7 separate regions of the Homo sapiens genome follow, and all the other regions are reported to be linked to region 1. Evidence: microRNA targets listed by miRTarBase, many of them from high-throughput screens and not tested one by one. Region 1 holds a microRNA gene; each other region holds the end of a gene's coding sequence.
What was found. Region 1 holds the annotated microRNA hsa-miR-3613-3p (ACAAAAAAAAAAGCCCAACCCUUC, at 2,446-2,469, opposite strand). A microRNA usually pairs through its seed, bases 2 to 8, with sites in the 3' UTR of a target mRNA and lowers its output. Matches are read on the target gene's strand: a 7mer-m8 pairs with bases 2 to 8, a 7mer-A1 pairs with bases 2 to 7 and ends in A, and an 8mer does both.

Region 1 (4,265 bases):
GAGGAGAGAAAAGGTTATTCTTCCTTCTCCATTTTTCCACACTTAAGAGAATTTAATATACTGTGTTTTCTAGTTAGTAGTTAATTTTGTGTAATAGTCTAGAGATTGCTATACAGATTTAATGTGTTTTACACTTAGTTGGGCAAAAGTGTATTAGTATCTACCACCAACCAGATCTAACTACATAAATATATATTATATAATTATATTAAGGATAATTTGTGGGTTTTGCGTGTGAACCCTAAAAATCTGAGCCATGTCCCAGTTAATTTAGAAAGTTTATTTTGCCACGGTTGAGGATGCGTGCCCATGATACAGCTTCAGGAGGTCAGAACCCGAGGTGGTCAGAGCAGTTTGGTTTTGTACATTTTAGGAAGACACGAGACATCAATCAGCGTGTGTAAGATGAACACTGGTTCAGTCCAGAAAAGGTGGGACGACTTGAAGCAAAGGTGGGACAACTCAAAACAGGGGGCGGGCTTCCAGGTTTTAGGGAGATAAGAGGCAAATCACTGCATTCTTTTGAGTTTCTGGTTACCCTTTCCAAAGGAGGCAATCAGATATTCATTTATCTCAGTGAGCAGAGGGATGACTTTGAATAGAATGGGAGGCAGGTTTGCCCTAAGCAGTTCTCCGAAGCTTGACTTTTTCCTTTAGCTTAGTGATTTTGGGGCCCCAAGATTTTCCTTTCACATGAGTTAATAACTGTCCAGTCTTGTGAAATATCATTTTAATATTAGGATATCTGAAATGTTTCCATATGGCTGGGTGTGGTGGCTCACGCCTGTAATCCCAGCACTTTGGGAGGCTGAGGCCTGAGGAACACTTGAGCCCAGGAGTTTGACACCAGCCTGGGCAACATAGTGAGACTCTATCTTTACAAAAAATAAAATTAGCCAGGCGTGGTGGCGCATGTCTGTGGTCCCAGCTACTTGGGAGGCTAAGGGAGGAGGATAACTTGGGCCCAGGGGCTTGAGGCTGTAGTGAGCCATGATCATGCTACTGCACTCCAGCCTGGGGGACAGAGATAGACCCTGTCTCAAAATCAATCAACACACAATGACAACAAATAAATGAGATGTTTCTACAGATCACTTTGTTTTTTTAGAAACACTAAATTAATTAATTAATTTAGTTATTGAGACGGAGTCTTGCTCTGTTGCCCAGGCTGGAGTGCAGTGGTAGGATCTCGGCTCACTGCAACCTCCATCTCCCGGGTTCAAGCTATTCTCCTGCCTCAGCCTCTCAAGTAGCTGGGACTACAGGCATACGGCACCATGACCGGCTAATTTTTGTATTTTTAGTAGAGACCAGGTTTCACCATGTTGGTCAGTCCGGTCTGGAACTCCTGACCTCAGGTGATCTGCCCGCCTCGACCTCCCAAAGTGCTGGGATTACAGGCGTGAGCCACCGTGCCTGGCCTAAAAACACTAAATTTAGTAAGGTACTGGGGTGCAGTTTTGTCACTGACAGTTATGGTGCTGTAGAAAGAGCCCATATCTGGAAGCTGCCTTTAGCCTCAGCTCTGCCTCTTGCTTTTGTACCTTGGAAAAGTCACTTCACCTGTTTTCTCATCTATATAGGATGAAGATCATAATTTCTTTTACACAGTGTTATGAGACTGAATGACAGAAATTAAAAGAAGTGTTCTACGAAGGCAAAGTTAGGTTTCTTATAGCAGGAAGGGAGATGCACACAGAGAAGTGGGAATCTCAGGAGACGGATGTGGCCAGGGGCTTTTTACGGGGGTTGGGCTAAGCATTATTAGTCAACGGGCTGTACTGCTATTTATGGTAGGTTTTGAATACCGTTTCTCCAAAATAACCTATTTCCTCCCCAAACCCAAACTTCCTCAACTGGGATCGAACTCAATCCTACAGCGTGTTCTGAGATTCTATACTCGCCTCACTTCTCCCAAGATCGTAAATTCTGGAGGAGCCATTCCTTCATCATCCATGTTTGCATCCTTCACACCGTTCACTGGTTAAGTGCTTAGTACGTTTGCTATTGGGCAAGGTCCTCAAACGGGAGGTGGACGTCAGAATAGTCAGGTTATCGACTGAGTAACTGTTAGTGGTGGATAATTTAAAGCCAATTTGAAAGTTCATCCTTTCCCCCAAAGGCAAAAACAGGCGTTCCTTTTCTTAAAAGAGAATTTTAAATAGAATTGGGTCTCTGGTGTCCTGCCTAAAGCCCGCAAAGAAAGAGGGTACGGTTGGGGGTGGGGGTGATGGGGGATACTGAACCCTTTTCTGGTTGCGCCTTGCCCGGAGCCCCCGGCTAGAGCCCTGGCGCTCCTGGCGCGCTCCCAACGCGAATCGGTGACTCCGCAGGCCGCGCAGTGCGGAGGTGCCCGTCCCACCCTCCCCCTTGTGGGGTGCGGGGCTCCATTTCCCCAAGCCGCTGGGGTCGGCTTCTGGTCTTGAGATGCGGATGAAGTGGTGTGAAGGGTTGGGCTTTTTTTTTTGTTCCTAAAAATGCAACGAACAAAAAAAAAAGTACAACAATCCAAACCCAACCATCTTAATTGCACGGCAGCTTAACTGGGAGACTTTCTTCCCGGGCGGCCCCACCCGGGACCGCGCCGCTTCAGTCGAGCCCACCGTCTGGGCAAACGGCGTCCACTTCCCGGAGCCGCTGCCCAGCCTCTGCGGGGGGGCTTTGGGCGGGCGCAGGACTCTGGAAGGGAGAAAAGCCCGCAGCCCGGCCCTCCCCGTCCCAGGCGGCCCGCGCGGGTGGACGGCGGGAGCAGGCGGCGGTTGGAGACGCCGGAAGGAACGCGGTCTCACCACCCGGCTCCCTCCGCCAAGGCGAGGCGCGGCCGGGGAGGCGGGACACAGGCGAAGCGGGACGGGGAGGCGGGGCCGGAGGTGCAGGCGGAGGCGGGCGACGGGGAAGGGAGGGGGAGGGGGAGGGGAAAGGGAGGGGGAGGGGGAGGGGAAAGGGAGGGGGAGGGGGGAAGGGACGGGAGGGGAGGGGGAAGGGACGGGAGGGGAGGGGGAAGGGACGGGAGGGGAAGGGGAAGCGGGAGAGGGAAGGGGGCGGAGCTAGCCGGAGCCGCGAGTCCATTTTGGGGCTGTGCTTGGCGCGTACCGTGCGGTCCCTGTAGTTGGAGGACGGGCGGTCGCGCGGCCTTTCCCACTAGCCGGAGGTCGGAGATAAGTACCCGCCGCCCGGCTCCTCTCGGGAAAGCGGGGTGGTCCTCGAACCTTCAGCGAGGGTGGGGAGTTGCCCAGGTCAGCAGGGATCTGCGTGGGTTGGGGGGGCTGGCGAAGGCCGTCTGAGCTCCAGTCCGGCAGCGCGGCAGAAACCAGCGGGGCACTGTCATGGGCCTGGGGAGGAGCGGCCTGCGGAGGGCGCCGGGGCAGTGTGTCTGTGGTCCAGAAAACCTGCTCCGTCCGGAGCCTTCCTGGCCCCGCTACCAGCGTCTCCACATCCCCTAGAAAAGAAAAGACGGGTGTGGGCCTTAGGTTACAGCGCGCCGCCAGCGTTTGGTTGCATGGCGCCGGGGGAGGGCGCCCTAACCGAGAAGCTGCTTAATACAAAGAGCTCCAGGCTCCTGGCGGTTCACCAGGTCTAAACAGCCGGGCTTTATTTGTGGGGGCGATTGAAAAAATTGAGGGTCAAGATTGGGGTGCTGTGCAAATAAATGCGTTAATACTGTTCTTTTTCTTCTTTCTTTGCAGTAGCCTCTAGTTCGTTAGTCAAAACGTGAAAAAAAAGACCTGCTTTGCCCTGGGAAATAGTAACCCTGCCAAATACATCAGCTTGTAGGAGACAGAGGTAAACTACAATAATTTTCCTGTGTTATCTTTTTTTTTTAAACACCCAATTTCAATAGGCCCTAGAACCTTCCAAAATGGAACTGTGTGTAGAATACGTATGTTCCCATCCACTTTCATTGGTGGTCTTTGTTCTTTGCATATTTTGTTAAAACTTAGAAAAACAGAATTCACGTTTAGCAATTATTTATGTGGTATTTATCTTAAATATAGCCAAACATTCATATTACAAAGGAAGAAAGGGGCTTCCACACTTTTTTCCTACTTTTTTTTCCCTTCTCCTATGCTTAGTGAATTGTCAGGCTGCTAGGGCTTGTAGAACAGGGCTTGAGTTTTCTAGAGACCTTTATATAATAGGCACTTTAAAAGCAGAATTTCATTTACATAGGCACTCCTTCTAGTAGAACTTGATGGAGCTGTTAACCGGCTATACTTCCTTCTTGCACAATGGGAGCGTCCCTATCCCTCCCTAAAAATACGTTT
Region 2 (4,265 bases), not on the chromosome of region 1:
TTTTGGAAAAAGTAGATGCAAAAGAAGTCATAATATAGAAGTAAAATTTTTTTGGGGTGTTACCTCTGTGAAATCTCATACAAACTTCCAAGACACACTTAAAAATTTGGAATACCTCCTGTATGCATTGTGTTCCTTTTTCATTTTTGGCAACCATTTACATTTCCACCAATGTTTGTGGATCTACCCTCTATCAGTATTTTTCTTGAACTTGTGGGTTTAGTGATGAACAAAAATGATAAAATCTCTTCCCTATAAGAACATATATAATGACTACACATATACATAAGCCTATATGTAACTAATAAATTTTAAGGAACAATATTCAGAGGTGTGATACCATTTGAAGCAAATGGAATAAAAGAAGTAACAGTAAGATTACAAAATTTGGTGCATTAAAAATAACAAAATTATCTTAAATCCATTGAGGAACTAAACACTATTACAAATACATTTGAGAGGCAAGGGCAACAAAGGAAACCTCCTTGATTTAAAATAAAATCAATACTAAAATTATAATCTATTTAGAAATAATCAATAGCCTATGTATTAAAATATATGAATTATTCTCAGAGTGGTGGTCAAATAAAAATGTAAATATGTAAATGCGTTTGTTGGACTATAAAAAAGAACATATGTATTATCAAATATTAATTTTTAAAAATCCTACAAATATTAAAAATTAGAGCAGAAGGGAATAAAGACAAAAAATAATTAAAAGAATGTATTAAAAGCAACATTAAAGAAAATAATGCCAATACCTGTGTTTTTGAAAGACATATAAAGTAGAAAAAAGGCCTTTGGGAAATACTAATAAGAAAGAAAATAAACAACAGGAATGAAAAATGGGATAGCACACAAATATAAAAAACATTAAAAACACTCATTTTAACATTTCTAAGAGTTATACAGGTAATGCCCACAAGCTATTGACAGAAGTTAACACAAATTCTCTCAATTTTGTATCAGGCCGTAACGGTAAAATTTAGGAAAAATAGGCAGCTCAAAGTAAAACTACATGAACTATATTAAACAGGGAGTATGAGAGATAGGCCAATAAAGTTATATATTATGAACCTTTCCAAAAAAGATAATGAAGTGTCCATATATTAAGATAATAAAAAATAAGCTCGTATGTATACCTACTATGTAGTCAAATACATCAAGAATTAAAAAAAAAAATTTAAAAAGCTCAAAATGTAAGCCAGAAGAAAATATTCAAAAGCAGTAGTAAATTGAGATCTAATACAACTTATTGAAATGAAAATCAAAGATCAAAAATTAAGAAACTGATGAAAAAACAATAGCTTGGCTATATAAAGTTAAAATAGAAAAAGCATCTAGAATGCAATCTCAGAAAGAGCAATGGTAACTACAAAAGAAAGTTTGCATGACATGAAGAAAAAAGTTAGAAAATTTGATTGATGTCTAATTGGCATTTTAGAATAAGCTAATACAAAAGAGGTGTTTTTTAAACAGATAAACTGAAAATATTCCAGAATTGTTGAAAGAGTGGCAATTTAGAAAGCTCAACTATTTGCAAGCAGAATGAATGAATAAATAAGTAAACCAGAGTCCCAAACTATTCACAATATAGTAAAACTATAGAGCACTAAATACAGGTGTTAAAAGCACTAACTGGGTAAAAAAATGCATAGGAAGGGCTTTTAAACTGACAGTTGACTTCTCATCATCAAGGATCAAAACCAGATGACCAGAGAATCAGTTGAGTTAATCTTCAATGTGTTAAGTCAAACTGCCTACCAAGCATTCTCTACATAATAAAAACATTTCTCAAGAATAAGGATGAAATAAAAATATTTTCATAGTAAAATTTAAAACATTATACAGTCTGCAAACTCTAAGGGAAATTCTGAGACATTTATTTCAGATGGAAAAAGTATTCCACATGAAAGCTCTGAAATGTAAAAATAATGTGGGCAAAAATAGTAAATAAATTAGTAATAAAGCATTGACTGTATAAAATAATTTAAAAAATTAATTTATGAGAACACAAACAGGCTAGAAGTAATAAACTGGACAAAAATACCTTAATAGTTTAGAGTGGGATGATCTATCAATGGTTACAGCTGTTTAGGCTTCATTTATTAAGAAAAGGATGAAGAGTCTTTAATTCTTTAAATAACTTGAGACATTGCTAACTATGAAAGCTAAACTAGCCGGTCTAAATTAGACCTTCTAAACAAACAAACAACAAAAAGCATGAAGAAACAATAAAAAATAAAAGGCATGAAAGGGATAAATAAAAAGCCAAGAGAAAGCAAATAAAAAATTGACACAACTAGAAAATCATAAAGACAAATGTGACAAGAGTTTTTTTTTTTTTTATAAATAACCCTTTAAATGCTGTATACAAGTGGTAAATATAAAGAAAGGTTGAAACTAAAAAAGAATGGAAATTCAAGAGAAAGGATGTCAAGCAAAGGGTAACCAAAAGAATTGACAGTTATATTAATATTAAAACTAGTAGTTTTCAAGGTTAAACACATTAGCCTATAGATGAAGCAGGCTACCACACAAAGAGTTCAGTTCAGAAGAAAAATATAAATGTAAATTTACATATACCTTAATAAAGTAACTGCAAAGTATGTAAGAAAATGGAACTATAAAGACAAATGCACAAATCCACTATCATAGTTGGAGATTTGAACACACCTCTCAGGTGACAGACAACAAAAAATTAAGTATATAAGATATAAATTGAAACAAAAATTGCAAACATAATCTAATAGAAAATACTACACACAATCTAAAATGCATTCTTTCCAAACCTATGTGAAACATTAAAAAAGATGACATCACTCTTTATCAGTAAAAAAGATAATTCACTCACCAAATTTCAAAGTTTATTAAACAGATGATATTCTCTGACCAAATTAAACTTAGATTATCTTCTCACAATCAATAGAAGACCAAATTATTTTTCAAAGAAATTTATGAATCAATGAAATAATTATAACAGAATATAGGAAATGCTATGAATTGAATGATTGTGAAAATAAAGGAAGTCAGAAGAAATGTATAACCTTAAATATTTATTTGAGAAAACAAATAAAGATCCAAATACGTGAGTTGATCATCTGATAAAAGTAAGAGTTGACAAAAAAGGTACATCTTCTCCAATCCGAAAACAGAAAGTGGGAAAGATCAAGGTATCACTAGAGGTCAATGAAACAAAACATACAATAGTGGATGACAAAAGCCAATCTCTGAATCTTTGAAAAGAATATAATAAATGAACATCTGAAACCAGTGATCGAGAAATGTTTTAGATAAGGCACAAAAAGATACCAAGAATGTTAACACTAGGCTGTACATCCTAAAACAGTCAGATGAGCTCACTGTTATAATTCTGGTTCACCGCAAGAACCTTAGCACAAAGAAAGGACTCAACAAACATTTGGATCCATGAATAAAATTATCTTCCCACATATAACCACCTGCCTAAAACATTCTCCTCCTCCTTGAATTAAATTCACCATGTCTGCATCATAGGAGGCCCAAGGCCAGTACCCCCTCCCCATCTGCACACCCTGTGTTCAAACCAGTCCCAGCTCCTGTCATGTTATTGGCTTCTGAGTATCTGTATTAATAGTTGTTCCTGCCAGCATATGAAGATGAACAAATACACAACTGAGAGAGATCCAGGGATTTTAATCCACAGATGCCAGAGCTTGCTGGGATGTAGTCAGAAATCAAGCTGAACTCAGGAGTTCACAGTCTTTCCTGTAATGATGGTTGGGAGGTGAGGGAAGTCAGAGGCCTGGGGAAGAAGACAGGGGTTAGCTCTGGGTGGGCTAAGCATGGGAATGAGGTGTAACATAAGCTCTTTCCTGTTCCCACCATCCATCTGCTCCATGGGTAGCAGAGCTCAGATGCAGAGAGAGGTAAACCAGGCTTTCCCTCCTTCCACACTTGCAGTCCAGGGACACCAAGGCCTGAGTTGGGTCTGACCTTTTCTAGGATCTTTCTCCATGCTGCTGTCCTCCAGGAAGTCATGGCAAATTTACATCTCCAGCAGGTTGTAGACCAACAGCCTTGGAGAAATACAGTATAGACAGTGGGTAAGGCCAATCTCCCAGCTTCTGTCTCCACCTGCCAGCCCATGCCCACCTGTTCCATCTCTCATTTACCTTGAAGGACACACCAGGGTCTCTCCCCATGGTGTCTCCTGTACTCTGCTCCTGGGGTCGAGTCGGCTGCTGGGGTTTATCATCTGGAAGATTCTCTGCCTCAGCCTCAGC
Region 3 (4,265 bases), not on the chromosome of region 1:
GGACAATGGTACTTGGGGCCAGTGGACCACATGGCCCTGGGCACCCACCTGTAGAGTCAGGGAAGGTCTCCCTGACATGGAGTTGTGCCCATGCCCACTCACACTCACTCGCACACCTGAAAGTTTCTTTCGTGCAGCTCTGAAAGCCACTGATCTATTGGGCTGGCCTTTTGGGGTGCAGCTGCTTGGGCCTCTCTCCTCTGGAGAGTCCCACCTGTGTAGTGGGCGTGGGTGCCCTGATTGGGCCCAGTTGCAGGCAGTAGAGGCAGGGCAGGGACCTTGCAGTCCACTACATGTTCCTCGGGATTTCCCCAGGAGCCACAGTAGGAGGGAAGTGTGGTTTACCTGGCCTTTGATTCTCTCCAGGTGAGGAAGAGGATGGAGATGAAGATGAGGAAGCTGAGTCAGCTACGGGCAAGCGGGCAGCTGAAGATGATGAGGTGGGTTCTGGCTTGAGAAGAAGGGGGGTTTGGCATCTGGGTCTCCCCACCTGCCTTTAGCTGAGGTGCTCAAGCTGCGGAGGGACTGTTTCTGACTTTGTAGGTGGCCACTGTGTGGTCCTGAATCTTAAGAACAGGAAGGAAACAGGGCTGGGCTCAACTTCCCAGAGGCCTTGGGCTGTGGAGCTGGGGGTCCCTGGTTCTTGCTCTGCCAGCAGGAGCTGAGGCAGTGGGCTGGATAGGGCTCCTGGGGTTGGAGGGGCCTTTGACAGTCTTTCTCTGCTTAGGATGACGATGTCGATACCAAGAAGCAGAAGACCGACGAGGATGACTAGACAGCAAAAAAGGAAAAGTTAAACTAAAAAAAAAAAGGCCGCCGTGACCTATTCACCCTCCACTTCCCGTCTCAGAATCTAAACGTGGTCACCTTCGAGTAGAGAGGCCCGCCCGCCCACCGTGGGCAGTGCCACCCGCAGATGACACGCGCTCTCCACCACCCAACCCAAACCATGAGAATTTGCAACAGGGGAGGAAAAAAGAACCAAAACTTCCAAGGCCCTGCTTTTTTTCTTAAAAGTACTTTAAAAAGGAAATTTGTTTGTATTTTTTATTTACATTTTATATTTTTGTACATATTGTTAGGGTCAGCCATTTTTAATGATCTCGGATGACCAAACCAGCCTTCGGAGCGTTCTCTGTCCTACTTCTGACTTTACTTGTGGTGTGACCATGTTCATTATAATCTCAAAGGAGAAAAAAAACCTTGTAAAAAAAGCAAAAATGACAACAGAAAAACAATCTTATTCCGAGCATTCCAGTAACTTTTTTGTGTATGTACTTAGCTGTACTATAAGTAGTTGGTTTGTATGAGATGGTTAAAAAGGCCAAAGATAAAAGGTTTCTTTTTTTTTCCTTTTTTGTCTATGAAGTTGCTGTTTATTTTTTTTGGCCTGTTTGATGTATGTGTGAAACAATGTTGTCCAACAATAAACAGGAATTTTATTTTGCTGAGTTGTTCTAACAAAGCTGTCTCAAGCCTGGTTTTTCTGTTTCAGTTTCTTCAGACCTTCCAGGGCACAAGGATAGGAGGGGGAGGATCCTGGGGACAGTGGGTTGACATTTTGGGAGGCAGTTGGATGTGTCCTGTGATGGGCAGCAGAGTCTGGTGGGTGGGCAGGGACTGAGCTGCAGTTGGCTGGGGGGGCTGCTCACTGGGGCAGTCAGTGATTGCCCCAAGAAGCCTTAACTGGGGAGGAGGACTTCATCACTGGGTGCCACATGGGGACCCTGGTGCCCTGGGGGTGGGGGTTTGCAGTCCTAGACACTGGAAACGGGCCACACGGGACTGCCATTATGTGGAGCGCAGGGTGCTGGTGGTATAGGCCAAGAGGGAACTTGCCAAGCCTCCCAGGATGAGCGTCCAAGTGGTGGCTGCCTCTGCAGGCCTCACAGGTTTAGCTCCATGACGTGGCTCCCCCTGCTGGTGGCACGTGGTACCCCCCGGCCTCTTAGAATGCCGGGGTTTTGGTTTGGCACTGGTGCAGCCTGGCAGTCATCCAACCTTTGGTCTCCAGGTCCCTTAGGTTAGTTGGGCAGGCCCACCCTGCCCCTTGAACACAGTTGGAGAAGTTACTGTGCCGTTTGGATATTCATACACGGGCTGTGAGCAGTGGGTCAGGATAGCCAACTGGAGGAAGTGCCACCAGCTCGTGCCCTCAGAGGTGGAGGTAAGGATTAGAGCTCACCTAGAACCTTCTGGGATCCTCCAATGAGAGCTGCAGGGGCAGGGGCCGGTATAGGCACTGCTAGTGGGCCTGTTGCCCAGGTAGGACCTGAGGAAGCCATCCAGTGGTATCTGCAGGAAAACTCCCAGGAGCAGACTGAAGTGTCTGCAGAGGCCTGGCCTGGGTTAAGGGGAGATGCTGGGAAGGAGGGAAATGTGTGCATTGAAGAGAGCAAGAGAGACCAGTTCCCTCTACCTGCCCCTTGACACCGTGTCCACCCCATTCCATGCCCCCCCGACCTTTGTGTTTCACACCAGGCACCAGAGTTCTGGGGGGACCTTTCCCTTCTCTGGCTGGAGCTTAGTCACTCTCATGGGGCTGCTCAGGCCGCTTGTTCAGCATGTCCCCAGGCAGCTGCCACCAGGATCGGGGGCAGGTTGAGGCCTTGGTAGGAGGGACCCTCTGACCTGTATCTACCCCACACCCCCTGCACAGCCTGGGTATCTGCATCCTGGCTCATCCAGGGAAGAAAGGGAGGGTCTGGAGCCAAAACGCTGGCTCCTCTCTGTTCTGCCGCCCAAGGCGACTCAGTACTGCAGTGTTCCCAAGCTCGGCGCCCAGGAGGGTGTCTCTAAGGCAGGAGTGCAGGCGAAGGCCGTGAAGGAAGGCCACACAGGGCAGGTAGCGCTTGGAGCTGAGAGCAGATCTAACCCAGCTCCCTCAGGCTGCAGTCCTGCTCGGGACCACTACCGCAAGGCCCCTGAAAGGGGAGAAGCTGTGCCCTGGTCCGCACACAGACACGGCAGGCATGTTAGCATGAGGCAAGTAACTGAACCTTGTGGGCTTCAATCCCCTCCTCTGCAAAATGGGAACAATAGGATGAGGCATGAGCCAGGGCCCAGGGCTGCCTTGCTAGGGTCCCCCTGAGACACCCATATCAGCAGAGCTTACTGCCTCTGCTGTCTGAGCTGCCTCATCCCACCAAAGGTTTGGCCTGGAACAGCATTTGCTGGTTCTAGCAGAACACACTTACCCCTAGTCCTGAGCCTAGCACACAATTAACCACTGCCTGAGGATATACCTCAGGGCCCAGAGTCACCTTGATACCACTCCCAAAGTCCCCGAATGACCTCCCACTGGAGCCCAGGTTAAAAGATTATCAAGGAATGGGCGCCCCCTGGTGGACACAGAGGAACTGTAAAGCGTGCCGCTGAATTCTGTCCAGGAAAGACCCTTCAGTGGGCCCTGGTCCCAAGGTAGGCAACGCCAGTCACCCTCCACCTGACTCCCGCAACAAGACCTTTCTCCCTCTCTGTTGCTGGAACCCCAGTCAGATGTGACAGTCAGTGGTCATTTCCCAGACCTTCCTTCTGGGCAACTGATGCCCTCTCCCAAGGACTGAGTCCTTTACGTGGAACCAAAGCTGGAAGCAGGGGTCCACTCTTCCACGGTCTTGGGCTTCCCTGTGGCCACACACACCCTCACTGGACTCCACGCACCCTCACTGGACTCCATGCACCCTCACTGGACTCCATGCACCCTCACTGGACTCCATGCACCCTCACTCACTGGACTCCATACTGCCTCAGCAGACTCCACACTCTCTCACTGGACTCCCTGCTCCCTCACTCACTGGACTCCACGCACCCTCACTCACTGGACTCCACGCACCCTCACTGGACTCCACGCACCCTTACTCACTGGACTCCACACATCTTCACTGGACTCCACACATCCTCAGTGGACTCCACACATTCTCACTGGACTCTACAGACCCTCACTGGACTCCACGCTCCCTCACTGGACTCCACACTCCTTCACTGGACTCCACACACCCTCACTGGGACTGCTGCCCTGAGTACAAACTAGGAGAGTTTGAATGGGGGGTGTTCACTAGAATGACTAGAATGACTCAGTCACTAGAATGGGGGGCGGGGAGTCAGGGGCTCCCAGCTCTACTTCCTGGCTTTATCTTGGCTGTTGGCTACACAGCCCCAGGAATCAGTACTGCTTCTCCTCTACTGCTATCACAAGCCCTGGGGTCAGGATCCTCAGCCTCTGGCCCTTCCTAACTCCTCCCAGATCTCAGTCCCTCCAGGGC
Region 4 (4,265 bases), not on the chromosome of region 1:
AAACAAAATGTTAAATGCATTTTATTTTACAATGGTAAAGGAAATAAATCCCAGATTAGGTTAAAATGTTGGGTTTGATGCCTTATCAAAGTGGTCTTCATGAAAATATTTACCAAATTATAGTTCTACATATCTCCCAATCCTGTTTTAATGTTAATTTACAATGTAAGTTATATTTCTGAAAATCTTCAATGAGTGAGACATATGCGCTCTTAAATCAATGTAATTTTGAAAAGTATTGGAAACTTTAAAACTTCAACAATGTTCTCAATTATATGCTTTAACTTCCCATATTTTTAAAGTTGAACGACTACTTCCAGGTAATAGATGCACTGAATAAAAAGGATTTTTAATTGTATCTGAGGCATTTTTCATCTTATTTTTATCAATGCATAACTAAACTGTGACTTTAAAGACAAATGTTAAACTCTCTAATTTGAATGTATTTTAATAGATCTTTGCTGATGTAAGAAGATGGAATTTGGGCACAGAAGGCTTTCCGAGTTTTGAGGGGAAGTTGACATTTCTAGCTCTGATATTTTTGTCTTGAATTTAGATGGCTTTTCTCTAAATTAAATCAACTAGTTAATCCTTCTCTTTCAATTCTGTTCAACTAAATTGGGCATGAGTCACTATTAGAAGAATATATAAAACTTTAAAAGTTATAAATACCCTACTTGTAGAAGTTTGATAATAATGTGTGGATATTTTTGAAATACAAGAATATTCTGGTTTAAAAAATATGTATCTGTAGCTGACAAAATTTGTCTCACAGATATGAATGTTAGAATTATATTAAAAATTGCTTTCTTTTTTGGTTTTGGTTAGGTTCCTGAAAAAAAAAAACTTCCTAAACCAAGACTCAGTATTGCGTTTGTACAAAATAAAATGGCTACATATTAAACAGGCAAAGATAATACTGTTTCTCTTTGGTAATGGGATGTCATATGCTTTAGAGTAGGGTTTTTAAAAAAATAACTTCTATTAACTCCTTTTGGCAAAGAGGCTAGCATTCATTAATTTACAGAAAAACTTTTCCATTTACTACCCTAATCAGCAGAATGAAATAATACTCCTTCTCAAGGGAACTAGCCTAATCCTGGAGAGATATTCATACACTATTGAAGACTGATATTTTTCTGGTTGGTTGGGAGCAAAGTACTAGCTTGGTAACGGTATCTATAGAAAGCAAGCCATGAGAAATAAAGCTACAGCTTTTTCTTCAGTGATACCATCCCCATTCAAGAGGTTTAAATTCTTTCTCTTGAGAAAATCATAGATAGCAGTTCTGAGAGCTTTGCTGTTACAAGGGAAATACATGCTTAAAATGTTAGGAGAACATACCTAGCTTTCAGGCCATTCTTCCATCAGGACTTAAAGCTTTAGGAGAATACCATAAATAATTTGCTTTTTAGGAAAGAAGGAGTTTAAATTCTCAATGGGATCAAAGAAAGCTATGGGAGCACATGGGGTATGAGATATTTCCAAATAGCTTCAGAATTCTGCTATTCAGTGTCAAATACCACTCTGGAAAATATTGAACCTACTGAATCTATACCCATGACATCACAATCATAGTCCTTTCATTTCTAAATATTTTATTGTAATTACAAATTCTTTGTCAAGAAAGTGGTAAGTCCATAGTGTTTTAAAGCCTCAGGGTTCTGTGATATATAATTCTTTAAAAATATACTGATGGCCACTTGTGCTGTGGTATAAAACATCTCAGAAATATTGGTTATTTGAAAATGCCGTATTTGGTGTACTTCTGTCCAATATTGTAATACAGTGAAGATAAGCACAGTCTATAACTGGCAAATTATCGGGATACAACTGTCAGGTCATGTTGTGATAGAAAACGTGATGGTCAATAAAAACTGAAATGGAAACTCACAAAAAATCATAACCAAGTGGAAATACTGAAGTTTTCCAATGGCCTGATCCATATTAATTTAAGACAGCTCCTCTTCTGACACTTCAGGTAATATTGGTCATGAATTATTTTCATTATGGGAAGAAAATACATTTTTAATCCCACTGGTAGATTTTTCTAGCAGTATACTCGATGTAGTAAGTATATATTTAGATATACTGTAAAGGTATACAGTTGTTGAATAAATTATAGTGTTACGCAAAAATTCACACGAAGAGGCACTTGAGTGGCATGTTAGAAAATGATCTTTGGTAAAGGCAAAATGAAAAACCTGCTTCATTTAGTTACAATGAAAATATTTTAACTTACTGAAATGGAATGTTTCTCAACATAAAGATGTTTTTCAAATAAGCCATAAAATGGTAAATGCTATGGCTATAAACCTCTGCCTGTTTTTTTCCTGTTTGCCATTTAGAGTCTCTTTGTAGTAGATGATGATAGAAAGCTTTCACATTCAGAGCTGGTCATTTTCATTCGTTTTAACTTATTTTGAGGGGCAAAAAACCCTGTATCTGATCTCAGTAGTAGTTGCACAGCTGTATGGTATTGTTATTCAAATCCACAAATTAACTAAATGTTTTATTATATAGATGACAAATTACTAATGTCCAGGGCTTTCCAGAACCATTTTTTTCCAGTATTCCTTTAAACTATAGTAGGATTTTTGTATCCAACCCAATTTAATTGTCAAAAAAAAATGCTTGAAAAGTCCAGGGTTTTAATGTCTTCTGAATCTGTTGCTTTTGAAATTAGGCATTTCTGTTAAGTACTGAACATTTATTGATGGTATTGTTCAATAGAAAAAAAGAACTAAATGTAACAAAGGAACTGACTGAATATAAAAAATTTGATACTTCACTGTACATCTTAATTTTAAAACATGAATCTGTCCTTTTATGTTATAGTCAAAGATGCAGGCATCTCTAATATATTTGTCACAGTAAATTTGAAAGTCACAAGTAGTCAAAAGATTTGAAAATCACTTCAAGGGGAACACAACATTTGAAAGTTATTATAGCTAGTCAATAACGTTTGAAAAACATTTAAAGTGGTTGGTTTATAGATATTGTATTTACTATGATGGCTTAATTGATCAAAAATAGTTGGTAACTACTATTCCATCAACTGTAATTGAAAATAATTGGTAACTGTACAAAAATAAAAACAGATCTTGAATTTTACATTTGGAAACTTGCTTTTAAATGGTGTTTAATTAAATCAAAGTTTCTATGGTTGCATGTGTATTTTTTAACTCATACCATTTGATCCACGAAAGTGCAGTGGGTGGTATGGCTGGAAGCTAACGGGGGGTGGCTCAGGTATTACATAAATAGGGTACCTTGCCTCAGCTGCAAAGTACGGAGCAGGCTGATAAAAGCAAGTTACCTTTTGTGTATTGGGTAGAATATTTAGTTCTCCAAGTACTTTCAAAGCCATCATGGTGATCAGGTGGAGAATCTGTCTTCTTTCATAACTCATGAGGCAAACAGTGCTTTCATTCACAACTCCATGCAAGGTCATAAGGTAGTCATACTTGGTCATTCCTTCACCTATGAAATGGTTGTGGAGGTATGATTCAATTTTCTTTTGCTGTTCTTCTATATGAGGAAAATCAATAAAGAATCTAGAGCACATATAACGTTCTAGGTTTTTGATTTCTGACATACAGGCTGGCTTGAAGCCATGAACCAGCAAGCTGCAGTACTTCAGAAGGCCACCACCTCTAATCTCTTCAGGTTTCCTGGTACATATGAGCTTGTGTTGCAAATGTGTCATTGCTTCCTGGAAGTCTCCATACATGCTTTCAGCTACCACAACAGGATAGGATTCTTTGGTTAGCTTGGCATTTTTGTCACTGTAGAAGTCTAACATGGGATCCAAAACAATTTGAAAGGAATCTACACTAAATTCAAACTGCCGTCTGAGTGAACTCACAAATTTTAGTTCTAAATTCTTCCCAGTGTTATTTGAAAGGGAGATAAGACTCCAACAATCATGCCCATTGCAAACCTTGACCAATTTCTGTACGTAAGCGTCTTTCATGATATCTGGGGAGAGCTTTTCCTTCTTTACATCTTTTGGTAAAAAGTCAAGTAGACAGTCTAGAACTGCATCTTTAACAACCTGAAATTCTTCGTTACCTGGAAGCTCAACACCAAAAATAACGTCCAGATCCTTATAGCTGATTCCATTGTGGCTTGCAAGTATGTAACTTGCTACGGAACCATTCAATCTGGCATCTTTAACAATAATTCCTTGCCCTATGAGTTGATCTTTCACAACATGAATGATGTCTTTTGGTTTTACCTCCATTGTGGGGAAATTCCCCTTT
Region 5 (4,265 bases), not on the chromosome of region 1:
TTGTTCTCTTATTCTTATTGGAACACCAGATGACTCAATTCTGTAAAATTATCAACTCTCCCTAAATTGACCTGTAGATTTAATGAAATTCCAATCCAAATCTTTTCAAATTCAGCTTCTAAAATTTATATTGAATAATAAAGAACCAAGAATAACCAAGACATCTCTTTTCTTTTTTTTCCTGAGACAGAGTTTCGCTCTGTCACCCAGGCTGGAGTGCAATGGTACGATCTCGGCTCACTGCAACCTCCGCCCCCCGGGTTCAAGCAATTCTCCGGCCTCAGCCTCCCAAATAGCTGGGATTACAGGCACATGCCACCATGCCTGACTAATTTTTGTATTTTTTAGTAGAGATGGGGTTTCACCATGTTGGCCAGGCTGTCTCAAAACTCCTGACCTCAGGTGATCCATCCGCGTCGGCCTCCCAAAGTGCTGGGATTACAGGCGTGAGCCACCGTGCCTGACCTAGCTAAGACACTTCTGAAGTAGAAAAAGAAGGTGGAGGGAGATGTCCTACCGGATATCGAGAGCTGTTACAAAGCTATTGTAATAAACACAGTGTGATACTGGCACAGGATAGACAAATTGACAATGGAACAGAACAGGGAGCCCAGAAGCAGACCCATGGCCCTATGGAAACTTGATGGATGGTAGGTGAGATTGCAGACCCGCAGGAGAAAGACGACGTATTGAATACATGGCGCAGGGACCAGTGGTTACCTACATGCAAGACATGGAATTGGATCACTACCTCCCAACAGGCACAAAAGCCAGTTCCTGATACATTAGACTTCAAGATGAAAGACAAAACTTAAAACTTTTGGAATAAAATGTGGGCAAACCTCTTTATAGTATTGGGCAGAAAAGGATTTCTTTAGCCAGGCAAGAAAAAATGTTAACCATATGAGAAAACAGTTATAAATTTAACCAAATCAAATGAAGAACTTTTTGCTTATTACCAGAAAGACAAAGAAAGACACCATTAATTAGAGAAAAACAGGAGGGGCGCGGTGGCTCATGTCTGCAATTCCAGCACTTTGGAAGGCTGAGGTGGGAGGATCACTTGAGCTCAGGAGTTCAAGACCAGCCTGGGCAACATAATGAAACCTCAGAAACCTCACCTCTGCTAAAAATAAAAATAAAAAAGAATTTTATAAAAAATTTTAAAAAGGGAAAAATAAATTACAAAGGATATATATATATATATATATAGATATAGATAGATAGATAGATAGATAGGCAGAATTTCACTCTTGTCACCCAGTCTGGAGTGCAATGGCACAATCTTGGCTCGCTGCAACCTCTGCCTCCTGGGTTCAAGCGATTCTTCTGCCACAGCCTCTGGAGCAGCTGGGGTTACAGGCACCCGCCACCATACCCAGCTAAGTTTTGTACATGTTTAGTAGAGATGGGGTTTCACTGTGTTGGCCAGGCTGATCTTGAACTCTTGACCTCAGATGATCCACCCACCTCAGCCCCGCAAAGTGCTGGGATTACAGGTGTGAGCTACCGTGCCTGGCCACAAAGAAGATATTTTTTAACACATATAACTGACCAAAGATTATTATCTAGAATACATAAAGACCTTTTAGGAATCAGGACAAACAACCACATTTGGGTTTGTTTGTTTCTGAGAAAAGGTTTTTCTCTGTTGCCCAGGCTGAAGTGTAGTGATGCGGTCCCAGCTCACTGCAACCTCTGCCTCCCAGGCTCAAAGCGAACCTACTGAGTAGCTGGGACTTCAGGTGCACACCACCACACCCGGCTAATTTTTGTATTTTTTGTAAAGACAGGGTTTCGCCATGTTGCCAAGGCTGGTCTCGAACTCCTGGGCTCAAGCGATCTGCCCACCTTGGCCTCCCAAAGAGCTGGGACTACAGGCATGAGCCACTGCACCCGGCCCCAAGTTTTTTTGCAAATGGGCAAAAAAGCATGAGCAAGCATTTTATTTAAAAAAATAAACACAAATGGTATATAAATATTTGACAAGGTGCTCATCAGTAACCAAGCAAATGCAAACTAAGACCACAGTGAGATCTCATTCTATACCCACTGGCTTGGCAAAATTAAGGGCACCTGATAGTACCAGAGGGTAGCAAGGATGTGGATCAATGGGATACTTACATGACACTTATATGACTGACGGGAGTACATTAGAACAGCCACTTTGAAAAGCAATTTGGTACTGCAGTAGACTATTGTTCAGAAATATCTTCTCCTCACCCCTATTTACAGAATATACTTTTCTGCCCTATTGATGCCTGGCTTGGCTGCAGGATTTGCTCTAAAGGTTATAGTAGAACCAACTAAATAGGAGCAGAAGTGACAGATACCCATTTGCCATGCGATGGCCAATGTTCCAAATAGAAGCTGCTCCCTCCACCTAAATCCCAGAGTAAAATAACATGGGACAGAGGCACGCAAGCTTGCAATAGGCATGTCATACAAAAGTGTAAGAAATGGCCAGGCATGGTGGCTCATGCCTGTAATCCCAGCACTTTGGGAGGCAGAGGTGGGCAGATCACCTGAGGTCAGGAGTTTGAGACCAGCCTGGACAACATGGTGAAACCCCGTCTCTACTAAAAATATAAAAATTAGCCAGGCGTGGTGGCACATACCTGTAGTCCCAGCTACTTAGGAGGCTGAGGCAGGGAGATCACTTGAAACTGGGAGGCGGTGATCCAAGATTGTACCACTGTACTCCAGCCTGGGAGACAGAGTGAGACACTGTCTCAAAAAAAAATAAAATGAATAAAATTTAAAAAGCTATCCTTAGATCATAAGCCAAACAATGGCAGGCATGCCAGGTTTGCACCTGTAATCCCAGCTACTTGGGAGACTGAGGCGGGTGGATCACTTGAGCCCAGGAGTTTAAGGCTAAAGTGTGCTATGATTGTGCCTGTGAATAGCCACTCCATTCCAGCCTGGGCAACAGAGCAAGACTGTCTCAAGCAAACCAACAGACAAACAAAGGCAAATGGTGCACCAGGTTTGGCCATGGGAGTTTGGCGGCCCCCACTCTAGTGCTGTGGTAGGACAATGAGCTCACAGGTGTTAATTTTCTCACTGTACTTCATACCTATCATATGCAGTTCATTTATTGGCTTTGGTATAAAATATTATGTTAAAAGTTAAGAATTTTTAGAATGTAACCTGGCTTAAAAGGGAGCAGGACAAAGGCAGAAGGTGTGAGGATGGAGAAGACCATAGGATATACAGACACTTGAACTCTTTCCAAAACTTCCTCCAGGCCTGAGGTTTTTTGTCCTTGACCCTAAACTCAGGCACTCTGCTCATACTCCCCCCTGACGGTGGAGCATGTCGTGTTACATGACAGAACCCACGGAAACTTTAGTCGGGTACTTACTGCACCTCGTGGCTTATTGTCATATGTCATATTAGCACCAAAAAACAAACCTGCATTGATTTTGATTATAATTATAGTTGGACCACTGGACTATGTAATTGAATTTAAACTATAATTTTCTTTGGATTTCAAAAAAACTAGCTCAAACCTGTTAAGTGGTATCTAGAAAATGCTTTTTTTTTTTTTTTTTTATCACCAGCTCTGTCCTCATCTGTCTGTTCTGTTAAAAGTGGTGCATTATTTTGGCCGGGCCTGGCAGTTCATGTCTGTAATCCCAGCACTTTGGGAGGCCAAAGTGAACCTAGGAGTTTGAGACCAGCCTGTACAACATGGTGAAATGCCATCTTTACCAAACAAAAAACAAAAAAGTTAGTCAGGTGTGGTGGCCCTTCCTTGTAGTTCCAGCTACTCAGGAGACTGAGGCAGGAGGATCACTTGAGCTCCCAGAGGTCAAGGCTGCAGAGAGCCATGGTGGTGCCACTGCACTCCAGCCTGGGTGACAGAGTGAGACCCTGTCAAAAAAAAAAAAAAAGTGGTGCATTTTTAAAGGCCAACTCATTGGCATTTAGAAAAGAACGTGTGTTGGGGGAATCCTGGGTATTATGTAGGATGGTGTTCTTGCTTTTGAAAGCTGTGATAGCGGATGACTCATATTTCCTTGCTTCTTTTCAAGAAAGTCCCAACAGCCCTATTGACTTCCATTTCACAGTTCACATCCTCCTTCTTCTTCTTCTGGAAATCGGCAGCTACAGCCATCTTCCTCTTGAGTAGTTTGTACTGGTCTCATAAATGCTAAAAAAAAAATTTTAAGATACGTATATTTTGTTGTCTATTTGAATCATTTAACACTTATTTTCCATAAATTATAGCTGCAGAACATCTCTAAGCAGCAAACATT
Region 6 (4,265 bases), not on the chromosome of region 1:
AGGAAGATATTTTGAAACTCTGATCTCATCCAGTTTTTGCCCACTAATTTCAGCATTCATCAGTGACTCTTCCTATCCTGTGATTATTGTGGTATTTGCTTAATGCTTTTCTGTTTCCATTGTTCCTTCTATTTTGATTAATTGGAATTCTACTTTAAGGAATAGCTATCTCTTCTCTCTCATTTATTTATGTCCCACCACTCTATGTCTTGTGCGTTATTGAGCTGTATGGGCAGACAAAGTAATGCAAATGCTCTGGAAATAAACTATCAAAACTTCTTTGCCCAGAATTTTAAAGCAAAAAATTAAAAGTTGTTTACATAAGAAACTGTTGACAAGTGTAAGTCTAGGACATGTCACTCACTATTTTGGTCTTTCTGTCTCTCTCTAGCTTAGAACAAAATATGGCAGATTTTTTTCACAAGCAATAGTTTAGTAGTTCAACTTTCATTAATTATTTCTAGTAATTACTTTCAGTATTGAAAATACTTACTGTTAATATTCATGTAAGTAACAAACATTTAAATAAGAAAAATAAATGTATTTTCATTTTCTAGGTGCCGGAGCAATTCTTATTCCTCGTTTAGACATTGTGATTTCCTTCGTTGGAGCTGTGAGCAGCAGCACATTGGCCCTAATCCTGCCACCTTTGGTTGAAATTCTTACATTTTCGAAGGAACATTATAATATATGGATGGTCCTGAAAAATATTTCTATAGCATTCACTGGAGTTGTTGGCTTCTTATTAGGTACATATATAACTGTTGAAGAAATTATTTATCCTACTCCCAAAGTTGTAGCTGGCACTCCACAGAGTCCTTTTCTAAATTTGAATTCAACATGCTTAACATCTGGTTTGAAATAGTAAAAGCAGAATCATGAGTCTTCTATTTTTGTCCCATTTCTGAAAATTATCAAGATAACTAGTAAAATACATTGCTATATACATAAAAATGGTAACAAACTCTGTTTTCTTTGGCACGATATTAATATTTTGGAAGTAATCATAACTCTTTACCAGTAGTGGTAAACCTATGAAAAATCCTTGCTTTTAAGTGTTAGCAATAGTTCAAAAAATTAAGTTCTGAAAATTGAAAAAATTAAAATGTAAAAAAATTAAAGAATAAAAATACTTCTATTATTCTTTTATCTCAGTAAGAAATACCTTAACCAAGTTATCTCTCTTTTATGCTACTCTTTTGCCACTCACTTGAGAACAGAATAGGATTTCAACAATAAGAGAATAAAATAAGAACATGTATAACAAAAAGCTCTCTCCAGATCATCCCTGTGAATGCCAAAGTAAACTTTATGTACAGTGTAAAAAAAAAAAATCTCAGTTATGTTTTTATTAGCCAAATTCTAATGATTGGCTCCTGGAAGTATAGAAAACTCCCATTAACATAATATAAGCATCAGAAAATTGCAAACACTAGAATTAATTTTACACTCTAATGGTAGTTGATCTTCATAGTCAAGAGGCACTGTTCAAGATCATGACTTAGTGTTTCAATGAAATTTGAAAAGGGACTTTAAAACTTATCCAGTGCAACTCCCTTGTTTTTCGTCAGAGGAAAAGGAGGCCTAGAAAGGTTAAGTAACTTGGTCGAGACCACTCAGCCTTGAGATCAAGAAAACCTAATCTTCTGACTCCCAGGCCAGGATGTTTTATTTCTCACATCATGTCCAAGAAAAAGAATAAATTATGTTCAGCTTAATTTTAGTGTTGAATCTATTTGATTATATTTTAATACTTTGAAAATGAATGTGTGATTTTTAATAGTATATGTGACCTGAGCAGAAAATCAGGGAACTCCAAGAAGCCTACACTGTGGCCATATAAACCTCAGCAAGAGAAAGAAGCTATGTTCTTTTAAAACAGAATAGAGACCGCTTGCTGGTGAAACTCCTGGCTAGTAAGATGTGTGTCTAGCTATACTATTTGTGGCTTGAGCTTTTTTAATTATTACCTTCCTTTCCTGAGTTTTGTAGGCACCACATTCCTGAATGGCAGAAAATAGACACCTCAGAAAACGGAGGATTTGTGGACTCTTTCCAGCCCTGTGGCTTTTCTTATCACAGCCTTTTATTTATTATGAGCAGAATAAAAGAATCAGCTAGGTGTGGTGGTCTGTGCTTATAATCCCAGCTACTCTGGAGGATAAGTTGGGAGGATCACTTGAGAGGCCAGGAGCTTGAGACCAGCCTGGGCAGCATAGTGAGACCTCGACTCTATAAAACATAAAAATTTAAAAAAAAATTAGCCTGATGTGGCGTGTACCTGTAGTCCCAGCTACTGAGGAGGCTGAAGCAGGAGGATCCCTCGAGCACAAAAGTTTCAGGCTGTGGTAAGCTATGACTGTGCCACTGCACACCAGCCTGAGTTACAGAGGGAGATCCCAACTCTTAAAAACTAAAACAACAATAAATATATACAAGAATCATAACATAAAGGGATTCATGCTTAGAAAAAATCCATAAACTCCCTTCTAAATATTGAGACACTCCAGGCTTCTTTCAGACAAATAACTTCTAATTATTCCATATTTTTCAAGTTATTAACCAAGATAAAGAATCTCTCAGTTAGTGGGGAAAATGAAAATTATTAAGAATAGAATTGTCTTCTGACTTTAAAAACAATTTAGACTTTAAAACATGAACTGTTTACTCAGGCTGGTGATACTCTAGTTTGTTAGTATACCATACTTGAAGATATCATCAAGATCACTATAGTTGTATATATTCTCTATTTTTATATGTAAATGTTAACTTAGTTCAAGTATTTTTTGCTTGTATCGTTAACTGATCATCAAATACAATCCTAAAGATATATCAGAAGCTTTATTTTGGTACAAAGTCATAAGAATCAAAACTTTTTTAACCATTCACATTAGGTATCAACAGTAATTGTTTGAGATACTTTTATATCAATTCTGTTACACTGAGCCTTTAGTCATACTAAGAGAATGCAGAAGAAGTTATAGGAAAACGAATCTTCACTGAAACTAGTATTATATAATCTTGAATTAGATGTTTAAAAAACTTTATAGCTTGATATAAAATGAGTTGAAAATTATTATTTAATAGGAAGCAGCATTAGATTTTTGTCACCTGTTTTCAGATAATATTTCTAGTCTATGTATGTTATTTAATTTTTACACTTTGGCCCATTGTTTATTTTCCTTAAGGAATTCATCAAATGCAATGAAATTTGAATAAAATTGATCATAGCAATAAATAATTTTTAAATTCAGCACAAACTCATCTTGAGTATATTATCAATCAGGCTTCCTTTAGCAATAAGAATGGTGAATCAACATCCAGTACTAAATTCAATAAATGATGAATACTTTAAATACAAGAAAAAGTTGAATTGCAGAAAAGAAGAGGGGCTAAAAAGGAAGAAAGTTTTAATTCTCAACAAGAAACACTATTTAGATGGAAAGCTTAAATGTATTCTTATTAAGGGTATTTGATGATGCATTTTATTTGCAAAAATAACCAGTGGGTAATTTTTTCTCTGAAAATTTAGCTTTAATAAGTCGTAAAATTTCCTAAAGATTTTGGAGACGATATTTCGATTATACCAGCTCTTGCTTTTATTTTGGGAGCCTGGAGAAATGAGAGTGATTGCACCTGTCAAATTTTGTATCTCATCACTTTTGGATCATCACACTGTGACTAAAATGACTTCAGCATTTTGTTGGCCACCACAGTGAAGAACTATTCCCTGAAAGTTAATCAGTTGCCTGAGAGACTTTTCTGCTACTGAGGGGAAAGAAAGGAAAGCTTTATTTACCTCTAATGAGCTCCGTTCCAAGTCAGTTAATCACTGTTCCCTTACACCCAAGAGTTTCATCAGTATCAGAGTCAACTTGTCAAAACACTGGTTCTCAGACGTTTTTTTCAGAGGGACTTCTTTTCCCCACATGGCCAGATTTCTTTACAATTAAGAAAATAAGAGCTACAGCGTATTCTTGGTTAAAAACCAGTTTAGATGATGTTACCAAATGAAAACAAGTCTGTATTAGCAAATGCCACATTATATTTAGTCGTATTCTCACTAAATTCTCCGTTATTAAAATGATTTCTGCATCTTGCCTGGAAAATGCACTTACATATTTACAAGCGTTGTATGTCAATGTGCATGTTTTGAATTTCCTAACAGTGTCTAATCTTAGTAGTTTCATAGTAGTTATGTAAAATCTCTTTAACTGCAAAATACTATAAAATATTACTTGAAATATTAAAGTATTAGTGCCATT
Region 7 (4,265 bases), not on the chromosome of region 1:
CCCCACAACGACCATCAGAGGTCGTGAGGGGTGGCAGGGAGCCTGGCAGGGAGCCAGGCAGGGGCCAGGGTCTAGGCTCAGAGCAGTGAAGGATAGATAGGGTCACATGCCAGTTAGTGGCAGAGGTGGGACTTGAACCCAGGCCTCTGTGAGACTTGGTTCTCTCACCTGTAAAATGGGTCTACTAGCAGCTGCTTCTCCAAGCAAATGATGTCAAGCACCCAGCTCGGCACCTCACAGATGTGGTCAGTAAATGGTAATCCCAACCCTACCCTTATATGTGGACTAGAACACTTATGGCAAGTCTCGGGAGGTCATGGGAACTCCTCATGGCTCCTTCTTCATGCTGGAGGACCACGGCCTGCCCCATCCCACCCCAACACACTCTTGAAACTGAGGCCCTCGGCCTAGAGCAGCTCACACAGACGTGGACAGCTGTGCTAGCAGGTGCAGAGTCTGGGAGGCGAGGCTGGACCAGGGCCCCAGCTGGGCTTCGGGTAACCACAGGCCTCAACTGTCCAGTTGGCCAGAGGGACCTATCACCTGGCTCTGGGCCCCAGGATGCTTTAGCCACTTGAGCCGGCTCCAGGTGACCGTGTAAGTGACATAAAGCAAAGGTGTCCTGGACTGCACCACTCACTAGCTCAGCACCCCAGGCACCAGGCTGGAAACCACATCTCGCACCCAATTCTCCATTTAAAAATTTTACAGGAAGGGGCCAGGCACAGTGGCTCATGCCTGTAATCCCAGCACTTTGGGAGGCCAAGGTGGGCAGATCACCTGAGGTCAGGAGTTCGAGACCAGCCTGGCCAACATGATAAAATCCCGTCTCTACTAAAAATACAAAAAATTAGCCAGGCGTGGTGGCGGGCGCCTGGAATCCCAGCTACTCGGGAGGCTGAGGCAGGAAAATCGCTTGAACTAGAGAGGCGGAGGTGGCAGTGAGCGGAGATCACGGCATTGCACTCCAGCCTGGGCGACAGGGTGAGACTACATCTCAAAAACAAAAAACTAAAATAATAAAATTTTACAGGAAGAGAAACTATGGCCACAGTGGGGAGTGGCATGACTCCCTAAGCAAGTTCAGGTCAGACAGGGCAAAGAATTCTGACTGCAGGGAGGAGGAATGGCTGGTTTTCCAGAGATAGATCAGAACAACAGAAGCTCCCTGTGCTCCAGCCTCGGCTGTGGTGCACTGACCTCTCACCCCAGGCAGGCTGAAGAGGAAACCCCTGCAGAGGTGGCCTTGGACACCTGGTTCCTGGAAGCAGCTGGCTGCCGTCATCTGCAGGGCCTGCAGTTCCACCGCACCCTATGGCCCCCTGGGGTCACAGCCTCCCACATCCGCTAACCAGCCTCATCACTTGTTTCCGCCAGCAAACCACAGGTCCCCAGAACACACCCAGGGGAAGGGGGCTGCAGGACCTTCTCCCCCAGTCAGTCACTGTCAGTGGGCCCAAGTGCTGACCTCAGTTTAGGTTTCCCTGACATAAGGTGCTAAGAAAAATCACAAGGATTCTAGGGTCCCTGCCAGCCCCTACCTCCCTGAGTCTGTTTCATTAAAAATCCAGCCTGGAAGGTGTGCCAGGGAGAGTGACCTGCTGGAACTCCATGGCAGAAAGTAAGGGGATGGATTGGGGCTGGGCCTGAGCCAGGTATTGCCTGGAAGACTTGGGCATCTGGGTACCACCGTCCCTACGCACCCTTGGCCTGCTTAGGGTCCACTGTTCCCATCCCATCGTAGCTGTTACTTCCTCCAAAAAATCTTCCGGGAGCCCCCAGTCCCTGCACACCCAGCTGCCCTGGACACTGTGCCGTAAGCACCTCATACCCAGCTGTCCCCAGACTGGGCTGTGAACTCAGCCAGGCCAGAGGCCCCTGTCTGGAATGGGACCAGGCATGCAGGAGGTACCCAATAACTGCTCGCTAATGCAGGGAATGAAGCAGCTGTAGCTGCAGGGCCTTCTAGCTCTGTAGCCCGCTCAGTGTATGCAAGTTCTGGAACGGGGACAGCCACTCAGGAGGTACCCAGTAACCAGGCACTAATGCAGGGAATGAAGCAGCTGTAGCTGCAGGGCCTTCTAGCTCTGCAGCAGCACTGCCCTGGCCTGACCTGAGGCAGCAGAACTGGTGAGTGGGGTGTGGGCTCCCAGCCCAGACTGCCCAAGTTTGGGTCCTGATCTGTTACTCGCTGTGCACCCTGGGGAAGTCACTCAGTGACCTGCACCCTGGAAGACAAGACAACCAACTGTTGGGGTTCCCGGGTACTGCTGCGGTCACCACTTAGACATCAGCATGGGCACCCAGTAAGCTGGTAATCCCCTCCTTCCCAATCAAGCCCCAGCCACCAAGGCAAAGCTCACTGCTGCTTTATTGGAGGCAACAGCCCCTACTGGAGCCTGTGTCTTAGCGTTCCTGGGGGTCCCAGGGCCAGCCCCGGCCCCCACCCAGCTGCCCTGGCCCTGCCTGGCTCCCAGCCCACTTAGGGGTGAGTGTGATGGGGGGACCAGTGTTCCTGTCCTTGGAGCCCAGGCACAGCTTGGTCCTGGGTTTCTGGGATTGGGACAGGGCAAGTTAGTGTGGGGCAACAGAGTCCCTTCGTCCTCTGGAGCCTGGCGCCTGGTTCAGCCCTAGAACCCAACCTGCTGGATGAGACTGGCTGGGTCCTACGAGATGTCCATCACAGAGGCCCTAGGCAAGCACAGCCTTGCTCCTGCTCACCCTCCCATGTGGGCCCATGTCCGTCTGTGTGGCCTGGGGTCAGGGCCCCTGTGACTGCCTTGGCCTGGCAGCCACATGGACTGCCATCACCTAGGCCCAGTGTAGCCGTAGGGGTGCCGCAGCAGCAGGCTCTGGTGGCTGGGCAGCACGTGGGTGTGGTAGTGCTCCACCATGCTGCCCACACTCACAAACAGGACCTCGCCCTCCAGGTAGAACTTAGAGTCCTGTGGGGGAAGAGAAGGGGGAGCGTCAGCAGGGCCAGGCCACTCTGCGGCTCTAGGCCTCAGTCTCCCCGTCTGTAAAACAAGGCAGCAGCATCAACAGCGGCATCACCAGGCTGGCCCCTGGCTGTCGGTGGTGCCCCCAAGGTGGCCTCCGCATCAGGCCTGTGCTCTCCATGTTCCCACCTCACTTCCCCTCCGTCCTCCATGTCCAGGAGCCTGCACCCAGAGCACTTCAGACAAGGTCAGGAAATGAACCTAGGCCAGGCACGGTGGCCCACGCCTGTAATCCCAGCACTGTGGGAGGCCGAGGTGGGAGGATTGCTTGAGCCCCAGAATTTGAAACCAGCCTGAGAAAGACAGTGAGACCCCTGTCCCCGCAAAAAGAAAAAGACAAGACAAGCAACCCAGGGTCTATGGCTGACCGCCCATCCCCACTAGGGTCAGTGGAGGACAAAGGTAGGCCACGAGAGGAGGGAGGCTGAGCAGGAGGGGTGGGGGGTGAGCGATGGTGGAGGGGAAGGGGAGGGCGGTATCCTGGAGGTGCCAGTCTCAGTCTACCCGCTGCCTATGCCTCATCAGGGAGATTCTGCCCTGCCCCTTGCCAGGCCATGCGGCCAGGGTCCCCGTCCCACTCAGAGCCCTCTCACCTTCTCAAAAATGCGATAGTTCCTCACTTTGTTAGAGGTTTCGTCCCACACAACCAGGACCTACAGGACGGAAGCGGGAGGCTGACGGCTCCCTGAGAAACAGCGGGACCAGCCTCGGGAGACCATGGGCTGGGGATAGGGGGGCAGAACCATCAAGGCTGGGTCCTGTGGCCCTCGGGGGGCGGGGAGGGACTCCAGACCACCTGCACAAGGACAGCGGGGGCGACACTGGCAGCCCTCAGAGAGCCTCTGATGAGCAACAGCTCATAACCACCAATAACCACTCCGACACACCCGGGAGAGCATGGCTCAGTGAGGTCACAACTTCACGCTCGGAGGGACACGGGCAGACCTGGCGTTCCCCTGCCCCATGTGGCCTCCGCCACCCCAGAGCATGAGCCCTACCCCACCCGAGTCCTGGCCCCCACTGGGAGGTGGCCATCATGGCCCCCAATTTGCAGATGGAGATCTATTAGGGAATAGATTGGGGGGTGCTGCTGGGAAGAGAATTCAGCTGAGACACCAAGTAAGAGTCCACAAGGGGAGTGGTTTAGGAACTGTGGAGTCCTGGGCCCACCCACAGCCTGGGTGTGTGGAGAGCCAGAGGGGCCCTGGGGCATCTTCCCCTGGCGCCTACCTTCCCCGACTTGGTAGAGGAGTTCCGGATGCAGTA

Region 2: the mRNA of ZWINT is a reported target of hsa-miR-3613-3p. Seed matches in the 3' UTR shown: 7mer-m8 at 3,122-3,128.
Region 3: the mRNA of PTMA is a reported target of hsa-miR-3613-3p. Seed matches in the 3' UTR shown: 7mer-m8 at 1,263-1,269, 7mer-m8 at 1,354-1,360 and 7mer-m8 at 1,382-1,388.
Region 4: miRTarBase lists TENT5D as a target of hsa-miR-3613-3p. Seed matches in the 3' UTR shown: 7mer-A1 at 3,027-3,033, 8mer at 2,621-2,628, 7mer-m8 at 2,431-2,437 and 7mer-m8 at 1,894-1,900.
Region 5: miRTarBase lists TNFRSF9 as a target of hsa-miR-3613-3p. Seed matches in the 3' UTR shown: 8mer at 3,883-3,890, 7mer-m8 at 3,729-3,735, 7mer-m8 at 3,722-3,728, 8mer at 3,496-3,503, 7mer-m8 at 3,406-3,412, 8mer at 2,733-2,740 and 1 more.
Region 6: the mRNA of SLC36A4 is a reported target of hsa-miR-3613-3p. Seed matches in the 3' UTR shown: 7mer-m8 at 2,783-2,789.
Region 7: the mRNA of SH3BP2 is a reported target of hsa-miR-3613-3p. Seed matches in the 3' UTR shown: 7mer-m8 at 1,758-1,764, 7mer-m8 at 1,005-1,011, 7mer-A1 at 998-1,004 and 7mer-m8 at 844-850.

Annotation. Positions count from the first base shown.
Region 1 is chr13:49,993,981-49,998,245 of GRCh38, forward strand. It overlaps MIR3613 (microRNA 3613), which reads right to left and starts at 2,521; the gene lies at 2,435-2,521. It overlaps TRIM13 (tripartite motif containing 13), which reads left to right and starts at 3,062. Exons shown (of 2, transcript NM_213590.3): 1 at 3,062-3,783. It overlaps DLEU2 (deleted in lymphocytic leukemia 2), which reads right to left. Exons shown (of 14, transcript NR_152566.1): 11 at 3,094-3,439. RefSeq lists silencers at 2,029-2,078, 2,669-2,798 and an enhancer at 2,359-2,488.
Region 2 is chr10:56,354,402-56,358,666 of GRCh38, forward strand. It overlaps ZWINT (ZW10 interacting kinetochore protein), which reads right to left. Exons shown (of 9, transcript NM_007057.4): 7 at 4,155-4,265; 8 at 3,976-4,058; 9 at 2,826-3,784. The coding sequence ends at 4,017. Among named protein-coding and RNA genes, the nearest start is that of ZWINT, 4.7 kb to the right of the region's middle.
Region 3 is chr2:231,712,077-231,716,341 of GRCh38, forward strand. PTMA (prothymosin alpha) reads left to right here. Exons shown (of 5, transcript NM_002823.5): 4 at 367-440; 5 at 728-1,475. The coding sequence ends at 775. It overlaps MIR1244-1 (microRNA 1244-1), which reads left to right and starts at 1,238; the gene lies at 1,238-1,322. RefSeq lists enhancers at 123-623, 2,426-2,585, 2,595-3,124, 3,125-3,654, 3,216-3,455 and 1 more and a silencer at 2,643-2,937.
Region 4 is chrX:80,442,626-80,446,890 of GRCh38, reverse strand. TENT5D (terminal nucleotidyltransferase 5D) reads right to left here. Exons shown (of 3, transcript NM_152630.5): 3 at 1,582-4,265. The coding sequence ends at 3,182. Among named protein-coding and RNA genes, the nearest start is that of TENT5D, 24 kb to the right of the region's middle.
Region 5 is chr1:7,916,765-7,921,029 of GRCh38, forward strand. TNFRSF9 (TNF receptor superfamily member 9) reads right to left here. Exons shown (of 8, transcript NM_001561.6): 8 at 1-4,159. The coding sequence ends at 4,071. Among named protein-coding and RNA genes, the nearest start is that of TNFRSF9, 22 kb to the right of the region's middle.
Region 6 is chr11:93,145,137-93,149,401 of GRCh38, reverse strand. It overlaps SLC36A4 (solute carrier family 36 member 4), which reads left to right. Exons shown (of 11, transcript NM_152313.4): 11 at 558-4,265. The coding sequence ends at 865. Among named protein-coding and RNA genes, the nearest start is that of SLC36A4, 51 kb to the left of the region's middle.
Region 7 is chr4:2,832,377-2,836,641 of GRCh38, reverse strand. SH3BP2 (SH3 domain binding protein 2) reads right to left here. Exons shown (of 13, transcript NM_001122681.2): 11 at 4,230-4,265; 12 at 3,593-3,652; 13 at 1-2,945. The coding sequence ends at 2,808. Among named protein-coding and RNA genes, the nearest start is that of ADD1, 9.3 kb to the left of the region's middle. RefSeq lists enhancers at 1,104-1,153, 1,414-1,493.